2 separate regions of the Homo sapiens genome follow, and region 2 is linked to region 1. Evidence: fine-mapped expression QTL. Tissue or cell type: whole blood. Region 1 holds a variant in brackets; the other region holds the start of a gene. All regions are shown on one strand. Distances are between the middles of the regions.

Region 1 (10,860 bases):
CAAGTTGACACATAAAATTAACCATCACACCTGCCTAGCTAAAGTGGTTGTTATGAGATTTAATAGAACATGCAACGTGAACTTGTCAGGGGCAGGATCAGGCACAGAATAAAAGTTCCCCAGTGATCGTATTTCCTATTACTGTTAACTTATTGCCACTGTAATCATTTCTTTTATTTTCTTCTCCTCACTACCTGTTTCTGATACTTTGGTTCTCCCTTCATGTCTCATCCCTCTCTGCTCTCAAAAAGAGAAGACAATACCATAATTCCCATTAACCCAAAGGAAGAATTCATCTAAATTACCAGAGAATCTGACCTTGTAAATGTTTTCAAAGAAATGCATTTTTTGGCTCTAGAGTATATTTGACACTTGTAATTACATGCTTAGCTGGTTCCCAGTCTGCTATGACATCTGCTCCTTGAGAGTAGAATTGTATTTCCTTCACTTAAAAAATCCTTGGTTCCTAAGAAGTGCCAGGTAATTATCAGGTGATCAATTATAATAATGATTGATTGGATTGATTGAACTCATGGATGAATGAGCTAGAACAACTACAAACCATTTATACTTTTTAGAGCAGCAAAATAATATCTCTAGTAAAAGGCGTTAAAAGACCTGTAAGTCAAAACAGTGATGTTCAATTCAGAAGTATTGAATCTCTAAAATTTATTAGGCATACATTTTTGGTAACTGAGTATTATGTACTGAATGTTTTTGTCCCTATAAGATTCATATGTTGAAGCTCTAATCCCCAATGTTATGGTATTTGGAGGTGGGGACTTTGGAAAATGATCTGGTTATGATAATGGGTCCTCCATGAATGGGGTTTGTTCTCTTATAAAAAGAGGAGGAGACACTGGATCTTTCTTTCCAACATGTGAAGCTGAAACAAGAAGACAGCCATCTGCAAACCAGGAAGTGAGCCCTCACCAGACACCAAATCAGCTGGCACCTCAATCTTGAACTTTGCAGCCTTTAGAATTCTGAAAAAAAATACATGTTTGTTGGGTAAGACACTGAATCTACAGTATTTTCTTATAGCAGTCTGAGCTATGACAGTGGGTGAGTGGAAATCCTCTACAGTCCTTTAGCATCTTCCATCAGTATTGGCCCCATGGTCTTACCCTTCTTGTTTCATGCAATGCCCTGTTTCCCCTATTAGAGAGCAAGTTTGTTGAGGGCAGGCACCATATTTTAAAACATCTGTACCTGACTCAGTTCTTACAGGTAGTAGGCTCTCAAAAAATAAATGGTGGTTAAATTTTTAAAGTTGAGTTATTATCTATATATCTCCCATACTTTAATTTACTTTCTCAATCTTTTTAGCATCTTGATGAGGTACAAAGTATATAGAGTTTGGAAGTTGGAGGGTGTGCCTTTTGGGAAATTTTATATATTAAACATGGTTCCTTCATATATATAAATGCTGATTATACATAGCATCCTGGCCACCTTTAAAAGATATTAAGAAATAAACTTTTTGTTTTGAAAATTAGCAAATACAGGAAAAGACTCAAGCATTCATCTCTCCTTTCCTATAAAATCTGAACCACTGGGCAATCAGACGGTAGATGTTTCCTTGCACAGATATATTCCCAATAAAGAAGATGTGATCAAACTGGAATATCATCCTTTTCAATCTCTAATTAATTAGATATCTAACCACTGATCAGAAATGGCTGCTGACAACACAAAATGACATAATGTCACTCTTGACAAAGAATATGACACCACCTAGGAAGTAATTGTTCCCCACAAAATTCAAAACAAAAAACGATTAAGCCTCTGTAATCAACTTTCAGTTGGCAAGAAATACAGAAGACTAAGGAAGACATTAAACTTTACCACAGACATGCGATCAGCAAAATTCCAATGGAGTAAAGTCTACAAGACAAATGATGCAGTTTTCAAAGAAACAAATTTCAAAGGTCAGGGAGGAAGAACTTATGCATTCAAAGAGACCCAATAGGCATATTAAACAAACAAATAAAACCAGGCAGAGCTATACTATAGTATTTAGAAACGTAATTGGTAATAAAAACTATAAAGCAAGATGCAGAGGTGATTATCATAAACTCAGCCATAGTGGTTATTCTGAAGGTGAGGATGTTGGAAGGGGCAGCTGGAGGGCTCCTGATACAGCTAGCAAGATTTCGTCTCTTTTTATTCTTCGGTTCTTAAAAGGGCATGCTATGGTTTGAATGTGACCTGAAAATTTCATATGTTGGAAACTTAATCCCCAGTGCAACAGTGTTGAGACATGGGACCTTAAAGAGGGGATTAGGTCATGAGGGCTCAGCCCTCATGAATGAATTAATGTTATTATTGTGAGAATAGATTAGTTATCTCGGGAGTAGGTTCCTGATAGACAGATGAGTTTGGCCCCTTTCCTCCCTTTGGCCTTCTCTCATCTTCTCACCTTCAGCCATGAGATGATGCAGCAAGAAGGCTCTTGCCAGATGCCAGCACCTTGATACTGGGTTTCACAGCTGCCAGAACTGTGAGAAATATGTTTCTTTTTAAAAATAAAGTACACAGTCTGTGATATTCTGGTACAGCAACACAAAACAGACTAAAACAAGGCATTTGCCTTATAATAATTTTTACACTATTTTCTGTTTTTCTCGTATTTGAACAATACAAGTTTTTAAAAACAGCTGTTCTGCCTATTTCACAGAATGAATGGTGCCTACATAAACATGACATTTAATAAGTACAGGAACCTCGTCTGTATTCTTCACCGTCATACTCCCAGGGGCTAGACTGGCTCTTGGCACATGGTTGGACTAAATATATATTTACTGAATGTATTAATAAATGAAACTATAAAATCAAATATATACATGAAATCATATTATGATGATGACTATTAAATTCAGCAAAGTTACAAATTCCCAAGGAGTGCATTCCAGATCACTGAGAATCTTTTGTGTACAGCAGACGTGGTTCTTTATAACAATATTGCCCGCTGCTAGACTACAATAACAAATAGGACCTGAAGAGGATTGAGGCTGGCCATTGGCAGAGAGCTGACATCCAGTGATGTACAAGTCTTCCTGGCAGCACACACATCACTAGTCAGGTCCTGTGCACCTCTGTCACAGATGGATCTGCAGGATATTAAGGTTATACTCTCCACTCCAAGTAGTGGGGCTCAAGAGCAACCATCTGGCTGGAGCCCACTGCTAGGGGACATGTCCTAAAGTCATTTTGCACAGCAACACACTTTATACACTTGGAGGAGAATCAGTGGATGTTGTGTTCATTATCTATCACCATGTAATGACATTAGCACAAGCTTAGCAGCTTAGAACACACATTAATCTCAGTTTCTGCAGAGGTCTTTAACTGCGTCCTCTGCAAGGTTGTAAAGAAGGTGTTGTCCTGCACCGGCCTCTCATCTGAAGCTTTCACTGGGGAAGGCCTTAGCCATTGGGTCCTGGAAGATATCTGCATTCCAGAACTCTGGAACCTATGACTAGATTACCTTATGTGGCAAAAGGACTTTGTAAATGGGATGAAGTTAAGGATTTTAAAATGGAAAGATTATTCTGGATTATCTGGGTGGGCCCCATGTAATTACAAAAATTATTTAAAGAAGGAGGCAAGATGTCTAAAGTCAGAAAAGGAGATGTGACCACAGAAGCAGAGGCTAGAGTGAAGTGGTTTGAAGATGGAGGAGGGGGCCAGGGGCCAGGGAATGCAAGCAGTCTCTAGGTTTTACCCTTGTAAGGCTCATTTTGGACTGACCCCCAAAACTGTAAGATAATAAATTTGCATTGTTTTAAGCCACCAAATCTGTGGTAACTTGTTACTGTAGCCATAGTAAGCTTATACAGCCGGGGAGAAAATGTCCTTGTCAACAATGAAGCATTATATGCACGTAAACAGTTAGTACTATTTCAGTATCTTACTTTGAAAAACATTATCATTTAAATCAAATGACTCTGTAGAAAAATGTGTGTTACACATAGACAAAGGAAATGTAGAAATTCTCAATGGAAGTTCTCCTAATAGTGTATTAAATGAAAGGCTCCATATGCATTTAGTTCTCCATTAAATTCATTTTAAATCCCACTTCAAAGCATTCATGCACGTGGATTGTGGATCACTTTGTGATCACTTAACCTACTTGTAAAAATGGCAAAGGCATGGGACATATCCCAGACCTACTAAATTATTACACGAGGCTATTTCAAATACAACTGTGGTAAGCTTACTAATGGTCCCCCAAAATAGCCAGGTTCTAATCATAGGAACCCATCAATGTTACCTTATATGAAAATAGGGGCCTTGAAGGTGTCATTAAGTCAAAGATTTTATCTTGGATTATCAGAGTGGATCCTAAATGTAGTCTCAAGTGTCCTTTAAAGAGGGAGGTAGAGGGAGATTTTACTGCAGAAGAGGAGAAGGTGATGTAATGATGGAAGTAAGAAATCAGAGTGGTGTGCTTTGGAGGTGGAGGAGGGGGCCACAAGCCAAGGAATACAGACAGCCACTGGAAGCTAAAAAAGGCAAGGAAATAGATTTTTCCCTAAAGCCTCCAGAGGGAAAATAACTCTGCTGACCTTTATTTTAGACTTCTGAGCTCCAGAACTGTAAAACAATAACTTTGTGTTGCCGTAAGCCACTTGGTTTAGGGTAATTTGTTAAGGCAGCAATAGGGAAATAATACAGTCTTCAATGAATGATGTTCTGCCATGATTTCTCAAAAAAATATATATATACATATATATATACACACACACAAATATAAATTTGCTGATGACTTCACTTATTTATTAGTTTATTTTTTAACCAAAAATGTACTAAATGCAAATTATATATAAAGTTATATTTTGGCATTATCATTTCGAGCAAAGACAATTTTCTGCATGTATGAGTTTTTACTCAGAGAGTATCACATAGAACAAATTTGAATTACAGGCCATATTTGCTTTGTGAACACGCACCAAGTGTGGGGGGTGGAAAGGGAACATCTACAGCCCTTGAGTCAAGGCTCAAGGGTACAACTGCACCATTTTCATGCATTTGAAAGCGCATTGGTGTTTTGCCTATATTTTGCCCTCAAGGCATTTTTCTGTGTTATATCTTTAAGTGACATTAAAGTGAAAGGTAATTACGAGCCCCAAGAAGATTAAAAACTTGGTTTAGAACGTGGTTCAAAAGAATATAACTTTCAGAAAATGCTTCTTTCCTGTCCATTTTCATATTAACCATCATCTACGGTTACCACCTAATATCAAGTCACTCCACTGAGGTGAATGACAAACTTTTGCAGCATTATATTTTATGTACAAATTGCATTTATTGTTATTCAAGTTGTCAGGTTGGTATTAGTTAGACAAACTTGCTCTCATTATTCTATTAAAGCAATTCAGCAAGAGATAGGTGCATGTGGCAGACCCAGAAATCTGGTTACAAGCTCCTCACAGAATTTCCTAATGAAAATTCAAGCTCGAGAACCACTGCCTTAAAGAATCATAGGGGGACATTTATTCCAGGCGGTCTCTTTTCCATCACATTCCCCGTCCTTTTCCTTTCAACTGCCGGTGTTTGCAAAGGGAAGGCAAATTAATATTATTTTCATGAGCATATTATAATTTTGATGGAAAAACTGAGATCATTTTAAAATCACATAGTCAAACTAAAATGGCTTTTTCTCCATTACTCGCTTACTCCCTTCCAATAAAACACTTGATTCCAAGTAGACTGCAAGTTGGACAATTTCC[A/G]GATATTCAGATGGAGGACATTCATCGAAGGCATTCCTAAATGGTTGTCAAATTTTGACAAACCTAGATTGGAGAAATAAGAAAAGAAATGCATAATTCATCCCCATGCACAGGAAATGCAGTATCTAATCACTGCATACCCATTTGCGCATATATAAGCACACACCCACACCCATACCCACAACGGGCCTGAATTATCACAACTAGGAAGAGTGCAGCCTCAACTAAGGGTACTTTTCGTTTTTGCTTTTATCCCAGCAGTTCTTAGTGCTCTCCTTTTTGTCTGAAAGACTATAGAGGTTTTGACCCCTCAGCCCAGCGTGGTACTTAGTTAACTAATATTTCCTATGGTTTCCTCTTCCCACCTGCCCTTATGGCATTTTTCTGTATTATATCAGTATTTTAATTGCACTTTAAGTGAAAGGTAATCATGATCCTCAAGAAGATTAAAAACTTGGTAAAGAAAATGGCTCAAAAGAATACACCTTCCAGAAAATTGCTCTCTCCTGCCCCGTAGAACAGCCTGTAGGGTAACAGGTGGATTTTCCCCATATTTTTATTCCCTAAAGTTTATTCACTCATTCATTAAGTATACGAACATACATTCCTTCATTTAAGAGAGAACAGATGTGACCCATTTTGTTACTATGAAATCATAAGTGTGCAAAACGTGTACCGCTGATGCTAACACATCATTACTAACATGAGATACCTGTGCTGACCTTCATTTGCAAGGGACACTCAGGCCAGTGGTGGACAAGACAGATAGTCCCTATCTTCACAGGCTTTAAATTTAATCAGGAAAGCAGTTGACTAAGAATTTCATTATGTTATGAAAAGGGATATGATGTGAGCCGTGTGAGGTGCTAAAGAGGCACCTAATCTAATCTAACTTGCACAGTGCAGGATGGGTGTGTGTGTTGGGGGGAGGGTGCTGCATTAATATTTGTTGAACTGAATTCAGTTCCTTAGATTCTCATCATTGATTGTTAGAGGAGACTTATGAGTCATTCTTGATTCTCGATATTAATAACCATATCTTTGGTTTATTAGTTTCTCGGTATGTTTATATAAGAAGGAGAGGGTTGCAAAATCTTTAATATACACGCAGAGCTCTTGGCTTTCAAGGAAGTACTTCAAGAAATGATGCAGTAAATACATTAAATTTAATGAATATGTACAGAGTACATACTATTTTCAAGGCTTTGGTTGTAGATACAAAAATGAAGTCAATAGTCCTTGTTTTCACAGGTCTTAAATGCAAATGTGTGTGTATATGAGGCTGGTGGGCAGGAAACAGGAAAAAATGGAGTTGGGAACAAGAGAAGAACAAGTCAAAGTATGTACACAAATAATCAAAGAAAGGATCTCCTTCCATAAATGAGTCAGAAGATAAAAGTGTTTGTTCAGGATAGAAATATTGTCCTGATGTAATTTCTTTTGGGAGAGAACAAACAATGAGCTCAGAACAATGGGAAGTTCTGAGAAAACAGCAGGTGATATAACCCCTGCAGATCGGATATTGGCTCTTCCAGGAGGCCCTCCCTGAACATACTCCCCACTCCTCTTAGTCTGGGAAACTGACCTCCTTGTGCTCCCCCTGGCTCCTGTACTAACCTGATATTTGCACTTACCATATTAAAAGGCAACTTCACCTTGCCCCTTACAAGTCCTTTACTCTAATGAGATGATAAAATCTCAAAGCCAGCCACATGCTGGGGCATTCACACCCTGGTACCTAGTGACTGTGTCTAACCCATGGTAGACACTTCATTAACAGCAACTGAGCTAAACTTGGTACCCCATACCGTATAGAACATATTGTAAATTCTTAATAAAGATTTGGTAACTTAGGTGGTGCCACTTTAGAAATCAATAATTGTTTTAAACAAATGTCATTAACTCCTTTTTCTTTTTTCTTTTTTCTTTTTCTTTTTGTTTTTAAGACAAATTCTCTCTCTGTAGCCCAGGCTGAAGTGCAGTGGCATGGGCACAATCACAGCTCACTGCAGCCTCCACCTCCCAGGCTCAAGCAATTCCTCCATCTTAGTCTCCCCAGTAGCTGCAACTGCAGGTGCGCATCAGCACACCCAGCTAATTTTGTCTATTTTTCGTAGGTCTCACTATGTTGCTCAGGCTGGTCTAGAACTCCTGGACTCAAGGAAGTCTCCTGCCTCAGCTTCCCAAAGTGCTGAGATTACAGGTGTGAGCCACCACACCCAGCCTTGTCATTAATTTCAAGGGCTAAATTATAAGGATTTCTTGAGCTACCCAGAGATTCGATTTTCTAAATATCAGGTTGAATAAAACTTAGCTGTATGTGCACCCCCAGAAACCAGAAATACCCAGAAATTATGGGAAGCATCACTCAAAATGTCAGTAAGTCAATATTGGCTAGAATCCTAACCAAAATAAATTTTCACTAAACCCCATTGTGATTTCAGAATTAGCGCAGATTTTGTAAGAGTGCCATGGTGAATTACAGACCTCAGTCTCCAAGCCATGTGAGTTTGCCTCTGGCAGCCATATTGAAGTGAAGGTAATTAACACAGTCCATCGTGCAATAGGATGGTGCTATCCAGACTGTTTGAAATTCTATGGGCATCCCAACCAGACCCCAGTAACCCTTTGAAATATGCTGAACCATGGCAGTTAACACACAAGGGGATCATTAAATGAATAAGAGAAGGCACAGAAATCACAGTTTGTAACTGAGATCATTTCATGGGCAGTTTGCCAGCTATTTGGGAACGTCTAACACAAAGGTTTCTTCAGATGAGGTATTTATAAAGTGTAGTGCTATGAATCTACAAAATCACTTTAAAAATTATTTTAAATGACATCGCCTTTCAAATTATTTTCTAAGTCCTGTGCTTAACAATTATTTTGATGTAAAAATTTAGGAGGCAGGATGATAATACTATTAAATTTTAGCAGTAACAGAAAGTAGTCTTCAGGACGAATGATCAGGATGTTTCCTGTCATTGCCATCTACTATGCAGCAGAAACCATTCTCAGATATCAAATTATGATCACCTTGGTCCAGACAATAATGATGACACAGGCAACACTTACCGAGCACAGGCAGTGGTTTTGAAATAGCTGGCAAGGCTGAGAAACAATGATTTCACATCTTGAGTGAAACAGAGAAAATATTTTAAAATCATTTTAAAGTGACCAAAATTGGAATGAAATACAGGCATCATTGCAGTAATCTGGGAAACAGTTACTTACAAGCTACAGTTATCATCAATGAGCATGTGAAGACACTGGCTAATATTTCTCCCATAAACCATCTGAAACAACAAGATTGCTCTGATTTAGCATACTAATTGTGCATTTCCAACCTGTGTGATTTTTTTAGACTTACTATAGAATTATGATTTCAAGGTTTACTATGAAACTACAGTAATAAAGACAGTGGTATTGGAAAATGGACAGACATACAGATCAATGAAAGAGAGTAGACAGCCCAGAAGTAGACTTATGCAGATAGAGTAAACTGATTTTAATTGAGGCGCAGAAGCATTCAAAGGAGAACATACCGTCTTTTCAACCAATGGTGTTGAAACAATTGGATATTTACATGCAAAAAAATGAACCTCCACATGTATAACATACCTTACACAAAATTTAACTCAAAATGGGTCATAGACCAAAAATGTAGATCGTAAAACTGTAAAACTTCTAGAAGAAAACATGGGGGAATATCAATATGACCTTGCATTTGGCAATGAGTTTTAAAATGCAATACCAAATGCACAATCCATGAAAGAAGAGAAAGGAATAATTGGACTTTATCAAAATGTAAAACTTCTGCACTGTGAAAGACACTGCTAAGAGAATGAAAAGACAAGGCGCAGTCTGTGAGAAAATATTTGCAAATTATGTATCTAATCAAGGACTTCTATCCATAATATATAAAGAACTCTCAAAATTCAATAATAAGAAAATAAGCAACCCACTTGAAAAAATGAGCAAAAGATCTGAACAGACACTTCACCAAAGAATATATACAAATGTCAATAAGTATAAAAACAGATGTTCAACATCATTCCTCATTACAGTAATGCAAATTAAAACAGCGAGATATCACTGCATACCTAGTAGAATGGCTAAAACCCAAACAACTGGCAATACAAAATGCTGGGAGGATGCAGAGCAACAGAAACTCTCATTCATTGCAGTTAAGAATGAAAAGAGTGCAGCAGGGCGCGGTGCTCATGCCTGTAATCCCAGCACTTTGGGAGGCCGAGGCGGGCGGATCACGAGGTCAGGAGATTGAGACCGTCCTGGCTAACACGGTGAAACCCTGTCTCCACTAAAAATGCAAAAAAAAAAATAGCCGGGCGTGGTGGCGGGCGCCTGTAGTCCCAGCTACTTGGAAGGCTGAGGCAGGAGAATGGCGTGAACCCGGGAGGCGGAGCTTGCAGTGAGCCGAGGTCACGCCACTGCACTCCAGCCTGGGCGACAGAGCAAGACTCCGTCTCAAAAAAAAAAAAAAAAAAAAAAAAAAGAATGAAAAGTGTGCAAACAGTTGGAAGATAGTTTGGCCCTTGCTTACAAAGTTAAACATAGACTTACCATATAACCCAACAGCTTCACTTGCTTACAAATTTAAACTTAGACTTACCATATAACCCAACAGTTGCACCCCTTGGTATTAATTCAACTGAGGTGAATTCTGTGTCTGTACAAAAATCTGCATATGATTCTTTGTAGAAGCTTTATTCAAAGTGGTCAAAAACTGGAAGCAACCAAGACACCCTTCAATAGGTGAATGTATAAACAAACTGTGGTACATCCATACAATGGAATATGATTCAGCAACAAAAAGGAATGAGCTAATTGTAGAATAGCACATTTGTTATTGCTGTGGGTTAGTATATTTTCTTAGAGGAGGTGAATAGTTTTCTGTATTAATCATATACAAGCAAAATATTCCGTGAGAGAAATAATTTGTTCTGACAAAACAAGAAATTAAGGGAAGACAGAAATGGTGGGAAAAACTGAAGTCCCATAAGCGATGGCAGCAGCAGCCCATCTGGAGTGGCTGCTGCAAAGACGCCAGCTGCAGCAGGGGAGGCCTGGCCAGGGTTGTGGGCTTCGCAGAGCCCGAGGGAGC
Region 2 (10,860 bases), 35 kb before region 1:
AGGCAGGAGAATGGCGTGAACCCAGGAGGCAGAGCTTGCAGTAAGCTGAGATCGTGCCACTGCACTCCAGCCTGGGTGACAGAGCAAGACTCCGTCTCAAAAAAAAAAAAAAAAAAAAAAAAATTACACAGAAAAGCAACATATCAAAATTTGCAGGATACAGCTAAAACATTACTTAGAGGTAAATTTATAGCATTAAATACTTATAGTAGGAATAAAGAAAGGTCTCAAATATTGGCTTCCACTTTAAGGATCTAGAAAAAGAACAAATTAAACCCAAAATAAGCAGAAGAAAGTAAATAATGAAGATTATAACAGAAATCAATGAAATGAAAAGCAGAAAAAAATAGAGAAAAATTAATAAAAATTAAAGCTGGCTCTTTAAGAAAATAAAATTGGTAAACTTTCAGTCAGACTTATCAGCAAAAAAGAGAGAAGACACAAACTGCCAATATTAGGAGTGAGAGAGGTAACATCATATGTATTCTACAGATATTATAGGTAACTTTATGCCAATAAATTCAAGAACATCAATTAAACGGGTGAATCCCTTAAAAGACACAAATTACAAAAGCTCACTCAAGAATATATAGATGAGCTGAACAGCCCTATATCTACTGGATATGTAGTTAAAAACCTTTCTTTCCACAAATAAAACTATGGCACAGATGTCTCCTTTGATTAATTCTACCAAAAACTTAAGGGAAAATAATACCCCATATACACAAACTCTTGTAGAAAATTGAAGAGGAAATAATACTTCCCATTATATTCTATAAGGTCAGAATTACAACCAATCAAATGCATTACAAGAAAAGAAAACTACAGATCCATGTACCTCATGAACACATATGTAAAAATCCTAAGCAAAAAAATTTTGCAAATCAAATCCAACAACATAATAAAAAAATTATACATTATAACCAAGGGGGGAGTTATCCAATGTATACGAGGTTGATATAATGCTCAGAAATCCAAGTAACATACAATATTAATAAACTAACAAAGTGATAATGTCAGTAGAGACAAAACAGCAGTTGACAAAATCCACCATCCATTCCCAATTTTAAAAAGACAACAACTCGGAAAACCAGAAATAAAAAGGAACTCAACTTGACAAGGAGCATCCACAAAACACCTATAATCAACATTATATCGAGCAGAGAAAGACTCTTCCCGTAAGAATCAGAAAAAAAGGCCAGGAAATCTGTTCTCACCACTTCAACATTATACTGAAGGTTCTAGCAATAGGCAAGGAAAAACAAGGCATCCAGGTGGTAGAGAAGTAGAATTATTTCTATTTGCAGATGATATGACTGTCTACAGAGAATATCAAATGGAATTCATATAAAAAGCTAATTGAATAAGAAAGTTTGAAAAGATTGCAGAATATAAGATCTATATGAAAAAATCAAGTATACTTCTATATACTCAACACTTACAATGGCATCAAAAATATGAAGTACTTAGAGATAAATCAGAAAAATATGTGCAAAGTCTGTCCATTGAAAACTTCAAAAATATTGTAGACATTTTGTAATATCTAAATAAATGGAGATATATCCCTTGTTTTTGGGTCAGAAGATTCAATATTGTTAAGATACTCATTCTCCCCAAATCGAGCTACAGATTTAACACAATTCAGGTCAAAATCCCAGCAGACTTATTTTTGTACAAATTGACAAGATACTACTGAAATTCATATAGAAATGTAAAGGATCTGAATACAACTTTAAAAGATTAAAAAATTTAGAGGAAAAACACTACTGGATTTCAAGACTACTTATTACAAAGCTCCAGTAATCAAGACAGTGTGAAATTGGCACAGAGGAAGACAAATAAATCAATGAATCAGAAAAGAAAGTCGAGAACACACATATACAAGCCACTGGTTTATCCAAAGGTTCAATTCAATGGAGAGAGCATAGTCCTCAACAAGTGGGGCTGGTACTACTGGATTTCCATATTAAAAAAAAAAACACACACAACAACAATGTAATCTACATCTCACATCATATACAAAAATTGAGTCAAATGAATGATGGAATAGCATAAAACCAAAAATTATAAAATTTCTAGGAAAAAAAAGAGAAAAATCTATGTAAACTTAGCAAAGATTTCTTGGATATGACATCAAAAGCAAGATCTATAAAATAATAAATTAAACTTCAAAATTTAAATCTTCTCTTTCAAAATAATTAAGAGAAGGAAAATATAAGCCATAGGTGGGGAGAAAATACTTGCAAATCATGTATCTGATGACCTATATCCAGAATATATAGAAGACTCTTAAAACTCAAGGATAAGAAAACAAATCAATGTATAAAATGGGCAAAATATTTGAAGACATTTCACCAAAGAAGATCTATAGATGACAAATGTGTCCCAGTAATACAAAATGCATTCAATAGTATAAAATTTAAGAATAAAGACACTAGATCTTCTCTAAATCACAACACACACCAGATTAAATGCACAGAGAGGAACTAATTCATTTTCCTCTTGCCACCATCCCCAGGCTCAATATTGGTCCTCCTGAGCAGACACAAACATCAAAAATAGTGGTCTCTTCAACTTTACATGAGAATTTGCACCATGACCTCTCCTTTTCTCACCAAACTGTCTCTTACTCCTAAGAGACAATATAGCAAACATACACAAGAGTGCGGGCTCTGCTTACCATCCCAGATATACCACTTACTGTGTGGCACTGGGCACGCTGCTTAACCTCTTTGTGCTCCAGATTCCTCATCTGCAAAATGGAGGTGATGATACTAGTGTCTACCTCAAAAGATTTTTGTGAGAATTCAATGAGTACACACACAGAGAAACTTTCAGAACACTGACTAGAAGGCAATAAGCAGCTCAATAACTGTGAGTGAGCTATTATTATCATCCTTTCTCAGGAGCCCAAATTTCTCCTTTAGTTGAAGGAGGTTGAGAATTGTGGAAAGAGCCGCGAAAGCCGGGAAGCTCGTATCCTAGGTTCGACGTCTCTCCTGACTGACGGGATGTGACACTGGCTGAATCAATGTTCCCCTCCTCATCTCTAAAATGAACAGGTACACTAGATGAACTCTCGAGCACGGTCTCTCTAAAACCTGTACTAATGACATCCCTGCGTCTTTTTTTGGAAAATACAGGAAAGGCAGCGGAAAAAAGGGCACACAGGAGCAGTCAGGAGATGTTAGCAAGAGGCAGAAGGCCATTTATTGGGAAGCACGGGGGAGAGAGAACATGTAAAAAGGGTTTGTGGCACAGCAAAAGAGGACCACTTTCTCCACCCACATCTTTCAAATCTGTCCACTCGCCTCAGTCCTGTGGGCGGCAGTGCGGTGTAATGCAGGACCCAGAGGAAATCTTCGTGGGTTCTGTTCCCAGCCCTGATAGTTACTGTGTGATTTACTCTCTGTGCCTCACCAAAGAAATAGAGATGTCAGTAATCCTTCCCTGCCTTAAAAGGCTGCTGGGAAGATCAAACAAGAGAATGCAGGTAAAGCATGTTAACCAAGCCTGGCACATCAGAGCTACTCATTGGAGGAGTGCTTGTCATCTGTCCTGTTGCCACGACCTCAGTTCAGCCTACTATCTCCCACTCGAACTCCTATAGGGCCAAGCTATGCCCATGAACAAAACCTTTTGGTTTCTCTGTGGCTCTTTTGATAAATTTCTAAATCCTAAGTACAAAACCTGTATGAGCGGATCCCTGCCTACCTGTCAGGCCTTCCTTATCTCTTTGCTCTCCACTCCTTCTTTCTGTCTCACACCAGTTCCTGTCAGTGACAATTAGCCACCAAGAAGCCCTGCTCTTTCTCACCTCTGGGCAATTCACTGAGCTTTCCTGTTTCCTTTCCAGACAGCACTGCTTCCTCAGAGAAGCCTCCACCCACCTTGGGGTTAGGTCCCCTACCCACACCCTCAGGGCACAGGCACCCCTCTCTCTCCTGGCTGTAACCACTATACTTCTGTTTGTCTTCTCCCTCCCTAGGAGGGTAGGCCCACATCTGCCTCCTTCCTCACTGTATCCTGCATTCAATACCTGATTCAAGGTAGACACTCCGATGCAAGTCTGACAAGTTAATGATTTAACAAATCAAAGTGGGCACGACTCAGAGAAAGAGGGCAAAGGAAAATTCCCGACATAAAAAAGCGAAGAAGAAGGAGAAGGAGAAGGAGGAGAAGGAGCAGGAGGAGCAGGAGCAGAAGGAGCAGGAGGAGGAGGAGCAGGAGGAGGAGGAGCAGGAGGAGGAGGAGCAGGAGGAGGAGGAGCAGGAGGAGGAGGAGGAGGAGGAGAAGGAGGAGGAAGAGGAGGAGGAGAAGGAGAAGGAGGAGGAGGAGAAGGAGGAGGAGGAGAAGGAGGAGGAGAAGGAGGAGGAGGAGAAGGAGAAGAAGAAAAAAACCAACTAGGGTGAGACCAGGGGATGGGGAGACAGCCCTGAGAAGAGAGGAAGAAATATCAGTAGCTGATTTAGGAAAGGAGTTTCAACATTTACAAATCACTCCCCCCCGACCCCCACCTCTCCCACTTGCAGGCTGTCAGGTCTTCCAGGGCAGAAAGCCCATCATCTGGAGCAGTCTCTTGATTTAAAAAAAGTTAATTATGACATTTTTACAATGATAAGTGATCAATTAGGTAGAGCTGTACAAAACTGCCATATGGGGAGCTCAAAAACGTTGTCGATATCAAAATGGTTCATACAATATAAATAACTTACCCGCATCACCTTGCAGTTTGTTAGTATATTCTTAAAGAAACACGTTTACTACCGGGCGCAGTGGCTCACGCCTGTAATCGCAGCACTTTGAGAGGCCGAGGCGGGCGGATCACCTGAGGTCAGGAGTTCGAGACCAGCCTGGCCAACATGGCAAAACCCCGTCTCTACTAAGAATACAAAAATTAGCCTGGCGTGGTGGTGCACGCTGTAATCCCAGCTACTCAGGTGGCTGAGGCAGGAGAATTGCTTGAACCCGGGAGGCGGAGGCTGCAGTGGGCCGAGATCGCGCCGCTGCACTCCAGCCTGGGCGACAGAGCAAAACTCTTGTCTCAAACAAACAAACAAAAACACGTTTATAACACTTACTGTGTCTAAAACAGTAGTATGATTGCCATTATTTTGGAGATGAAGAAGCTGAGGCCCAAGGGGTGAAGTCACTCGCTCAAAGTCACAGGAAGAGGGAGGACTTCAACCCTGGCTCCAGAGTCGGAACCCTCCACCATTAGGCTACACTGCCTTCCGGAATGAGTCCGAAGATTGCGGCTTGGAGACAGTGACTGGCCCACGTTCACAGCCAGTAAGGAGCCACTTGGCCGGAACGTGGTGTGTCTGGCGCCAAAACCCCTGCACGTTCCCCGACCCCTTTCCTGGAGTCCAGTGCCTTTCTGCCTCTTCCTCCCCTTCCCACGGCCCCGCCCATTTTACAGATTAGGAACCTGAGCTGGAAAAGGCCAGGCTGTCCGGCCAGTCTGCAGAGGACCTGGTGCAGCCGGGGCTGCGGTGCGGAGGGCCGGGTGGGGTTAGGGTCCGCCCAGGCGCGGGGGAACCGACAGCGCAGGGCGGGAGCGGGCGGCGAGGATCCCACGAGACCCGGGACTACTTCCACAAGGGGAACGATCGAGGACGGAAGGTGGAGGGGGGCTTACTCCAGCCCATGGCGCCTCTCCAGTTCGCTGACCCCGCAAGCCGGACCCGGACCTCGAATGACGCTTTTCACCCTTCACCCCTGCTCCTCAGCGCGTCCCCGTCGGAATTCAGGAGCCATGGCAACGGGGACTCTACGGCGGCCGCGCGGGACCAAAACAAGCCGCGTTTCCTGAGCTCCGCGGAGCAAGCAGAGGAGACCGCAGTGAAGGGGCTCAGCAGACAGGGGTTCCCCAACCCAAACCCAGTCTTCGTCCTCGTCGCACTTCCGACTTGCCACAGACTGCTTCCCTCTCCCTGAATCAATGGTTTAGAGTGAACAAAGTATGAGGACGCTTCTCTTTTCTGTGCCTTCCAGGCTTGCCTTCCAGACCGCCTTTGACTTTTTCCTTTTTGTGTTTGATTTACAGCTTCCAGAGCCAACAGATCTGGATTTGGCCCCCAACTCTACCAGCGGCGTGACCTTACACTTCCTTCTCCTCAGTTTGCACATCTGTAAGATGAGAAATAACCTAAGAGGATCACTGTGAAGCTTTAATTAGATAATTTGAGTGAATGAAAGACACTATGAAAACAACAGGCTCACTATAAAGATTCGTTGTCGTTGTCATATTCCAGCTTTTTAAAGTCACTCTCCAACACTCGTTTCCGGCTAACAAGCTTTCCAGAAACGCCACCCATTACCCCCTCCATCAATTTCCCTATTCTCCACTCTCTTAATTGTAAAATGTAGGAAGTATATCTCCTACAGCCCCACACTCCCCTCACGTTTCCCCAGACCCTTCTCCAAAAGTGTGCAACGCGCCTTCTCCCATTCTAAACTAGGAAGCACATCAGCAAGCTCATTCACCCTCAGATCTTAGTGTTAGCACTTTAATGCGTTAGCTTCCCAAGAATCTTTAAAAGGTACCATTATTATGAAAGTAATTATTATTCTTTACTCCATTTGCAGAAAAAGGAGGGGGGCAATATGTAAAAGGTAAAACCTTCTCCCATCCCAGTCGTTTTAAACAGTATGGAGTGCGTGCTTCTTATCTTGATGTGTGTATTATGTTTGCATTTTAAAAGAAGATTCCTAGAGCAATGCTGAGTGCAAAGAAATTAATTTTTCTAGCGAATAGCTGTTAAGCATTTACAGCTGGCAATTATTAGAGTTTGCCAGGTAGAGACAAGGTCATGAACTTGGACAGAGAGGCAGGAAAGTCTAACAGAGTGAGGTGATGGGGGGAAGCAGAAACATCAGTTTGGCAATAAAGAGAGCTAGATAGAAGGGATCTTCGAACAGTAAGAATGAGAGATTAGATCGGGGGTAATGGGGGCCTTAAATGCCAGGCCAAAGGAACTGAACTGGAAGAGTGGGATTTCAGGCACTATTTCCCTGAATATTTGGATTTCCAAGGAGGCCTCCCAAAAGGCACTCAAACTATAAACTTACCTGACATCCACTATTATTTTTCTGAAAGCAGGTTAGTGTGAGGTGAACAGTATTAGCTCTGGCATTGGAAACATAGATTAAATACACAGATTTATTACTGTGTGGCATCAGACAGATGACTTCACCTTTGAAAGCTGAAACTTCTCTATTTCCACATGATGATGACAATATGGGTAAACATCTGTGGTCGTGCCACTGACACGCTGACACTGACACGTGACACTGAGCACTGATGTCTGATTACTCACAAAGGAGATGAAATGCTATTAGCAGCAGGCAAGTTTAGCAAATTCGCCTGTGCTTGAATTGTGCATTTTAACAACAAGGGGTTCATCAAGGCTAAAAAGGATCTAGCTTCTAGAAGGAAGCTACTACTGGGCAGAAAGATTAGTTTCTAAGCTGACAAAAGCATGAGGTCAGGCCTACTATAAAGGATCTCAGCTTGCAGTGAACTAGGATTGTGCCATTGCTCTCTAGCCTAGGTGACACAAAGAAACGATGTCTCTTAATAAAAATTAAAAAAAAATAATAAAGGATCTCAGCCTCTGGATCAGGAGACAAAGGGAGCCACTCCAGAACCGCAGAAAGTTCTCAAGAGCAATTGCAACCCAGGTATTTGACATGTTGGCTCTAAGCTTCTATCCTCACTCTCAGACCTACTCACTGTTGACTTAAAAAAAGAAACTGAGGTAAAATTAATATATATAGTCCCAGCTACTTGGGAGGCTGAGGTGGGAGTACTGCTTGAGCCCAGGAGTTCGAGGCTGCAGTGAGCCATGATCACTGCACTCCATCCTGGGCGACATAGTGAGACTCTGTGTCTAAAAAAATCGGGGTGCTGGTGCGTTGGGTGCCTGATGAGAGCCTGGTCTCCACTTCCAAGATGGTGCCTCATTGCTGCATTCTTCTGAGGAAAGGAGCCCTCTGTCCTCACATGACAGAAGGGATAGAAAAGGTGAAAAGGGGTGAACTCCATTTGGCAATCCCTTTTATAAGGGCATCTAATCCTATTCATGAGGGTGGAGCCCCTGTGACTCAATCACCTCCTTAAGGCTATGCCTCTTAATACTGCTACATTGGGGATTAAATTTCAACATGAATTTTGGAGGGGACAAAAACATTCAAACCACAGCAGCCCCTTTGACAACTAGAGAGTTCAAGAGTAAGATTGAGAGTTTAAGAGTGATGAGAAAGAAAATAAACTTTCTATCTGAGGAATGGGAGCACCCTTTAAATTATCAGGCCCAGAGAGGCACTGAAATGTGACAGCAGTCAAGTTCCAGTCCCCCATCCCCTTAAGCTAAGTAATCGTTTCAAAGCTGCCTGCCGTATGGACCCTAGACTGCGTGTTGCCACCAATGGCTATAAATAAACCTAACAATGCTGTACACTGGACATCATAACTCATTCCCTATAGTTTAACAATGTACAACCAATAACTAATCAATGTTATTTCTGTAAACCAGTGAGAATTCCTAACAAGCAACTTTCGTAGTCACCCGTTTCCTGATTAGTCCTTTTTTCTTTAAAACTGGAACCTCAACTTTGTTCTCCAGAGCACTTCCCAGTGTTTCCCAGGTTTCAGTCTTCAACCTTGGGACTATGTGTGTGCACCATCATGCCTGGCTAATATTTTTTTAGATTTTTTTATAGAGATAAGGTCTCACTGTGTTGCCCAGGCTGGTCTTGAACTCCTGGCCTCAAGAGATCCTCCCGCCTGGGCATCTTAAAGTGCTGAGATTACAGGTGTGAGCTACCGTGACTGGTGCCTAGTGCCCTTATATTGAACTTCCAATATTGGACTTTTATCAAGAATAAAAATAAATTTTTATATAAAAATAAATTTATAATTTATTAATATTTATAAGAATTTATAAGAATAAAAATAAATTTTTATTCTTGAGAAATGACTTAGTCTTAGATATTTCACTATAGAAGTAACAACAGACTAGGACATGTGCCTTGGATTTTTCCTGTGAAATTTTATATCTGTGGGACTCAAGTATTCTGTTCATTCATTCATAAGTGAATAAACAATTGGGCTGTCATTCTACTGGAGAAAAATCTCTAAGATACTTTTAAGCACTGTGCGCTCAACACTGCCCATGTACTTTGAAATTACTAACTCAATTCTCACAGTAACCCTCAAGCAGGTCATATTGTCATGAATATATTACAGATTAGGAAACTGAAGCCCAGTGATATTATTTTACTAAAGCATAGTGAATCAGAATTTTGTGCCTAAACCTTAATTCTATACTGCATCATTTTTTTAGACTGAGAGCTACTCGAGGGCAGAGAGGGAATTTTGTTATTGTTGTTTGTTTGTTTCCATCCCTGAATCCTAGCTCTCGCAAAATTCCTGACACTTATTGGGTGCTCAGTAAATATTTGTTGAATGATTGAATGGAGGAGTCAGTGAGCCAATTTCTTCAAGAGCTTGGCTGTCTTTGGTGTAAGGCCTACATCTTGTCACTTCAGTAGGATCACCAACCACAGAGGTGTCCCTGTTGTAAAGGAATCTAGCAGGCTTACCAGGAAGTGTACCTCATTCTCTGGTTATTGGACTGTTCTTTTTCTTGGGACCTTTTCACCAAAATCTAGGATAAGATCTGGTTCCAGGGGCAAGGTCTTGACAGATTGTCCTGACACTCTGGTGGAGCAGTGTTTGGCTCTGTGTTCCCACCCAATTCTCATCTTGTAATGCCCATAATTCCCACGTGTTGTGGGAGGGACCTGGTGGGAGGTAATTAAACCAGGGGGTGGGTCTTTCCCTTTCTGTTCTCGTGATAGTAAATGGATCTCACAAGACCAGATGGTTTTAAAAGTGGGAGTTTCTCCGCACAAGCTTTTCTCTTTGCCTGCTGACATCCACGTAAGACATGACTTGCTCTTCCTTGCCTTCTGCCATGATTGTGAGGCCTCCACAGCCACGTGGAGCTGTAAGTCCAGTTAAACCTCTTTCTTTTGGACATTGCCCAGTCTCAGGTATGTCTTTATCAGCAGCATGAAAACAGAATAATACAAGCAGAGAAAAGCTTTGGATGATAAAGCAGGGAAATCAGCAATATCTTCTTTGCAGTTTGTCATAGGCCAGGCTGGCTGGTTATGATGTGTCCTTCCTCAACCCAACATCACAGTCACTGTGTTTCTTAGAAACAGAGGACCCAGGGGGTATGAAGGACATGTGTACAATGTGCTGTGATTGTCACAGTCCACTGACAGGGAGGACAACTGGGAAATCACGATGTGACAGCTCTAAGTAAAGTCAAGTTCATTTCACTCAAAGTGGATGAAAGAGTTTAAAGAGTTGTGGTGTGTGTCTGTTTATGCAAATCATTGTTCCAAATAGACTTATTTCTTTGGCTGCTGGAACTATAGCAAGATGAGCTATGCTTCCTGAAAAAACAGGTGTGACATTTTGTGTATACAAGTAGAAAAAATAAATCTTAAAGAGAGTGTGTGTGCTTTTTTTTTATTCCAGTAACAGCAAAATAGTCCTCCTACTTCTTTTATGCTGGATAAATTCTAGGGACATTTGCCTAGAAAGCAATTTAGTTCTTTTTATTTTCATTTTAACTTATATAATTTCTTATTTTTTTATGATATGTAACCAATATTGTGACTAGAATTCCACCATACTTTGCATTTATTTTTCTTCAGAAAAGTTTCTACATTGCAACTTTATGAAAGGTAAACCAAGCTGCCAAGTTTACCAGCACGACTACAAGTCTCAGTTCCTTCCTTTCATTGTCCTGTTCCCTTATCCCTTTTTCCTTACCCCTT

Evidence for each region. PIP is the estimated chance that this variant, and not a neighbour inherited with it, causes the effect.
Region 2: DNAAF11 starts here. The variant in region 1 is fine-mapped to the expression of DNAAF11 in whole blood (TOPMed, PIP above 0.99).

The regions. Positions count from the first base shown.
Region 1 is chr8:132,705,185-132,716,044 of GRCh38, forward strand. It overlaps TMEM71 (transmembrane protein 71), which reads right to left. Exons shown (of 10, transcript NM_001382403.1): 8 at 8,970-9,031; 9 at 8,811-8,868; 10 at 4,757-5,798. The coding sequence ends at 5,783. Among named protein-coding and RNA genes, the nearest start is that of DNAAF11, 35 kb to the left of the region's middle. The variant A/G (reference allele first, on the strand shown) is at 5,736.
Region 2 is chr8:132,669,843-132,680,702 of GRCh38, forward strand. DNAAF11 (dynein axonemal assembly factor 11) reads right to left here and starts at 5,703. Exons shown (of 12, transcript NM_012472.6): 1 at 5,642-5,703. The coding sequence starts at 5,651. LOC105375767 (a long non-coding RNA gene) reads left to right here and starts at 5,788. Exons shown (of 2, transcript XR_928665.4): 1 at 5,788-5,963; 2 at 6,050-6,216.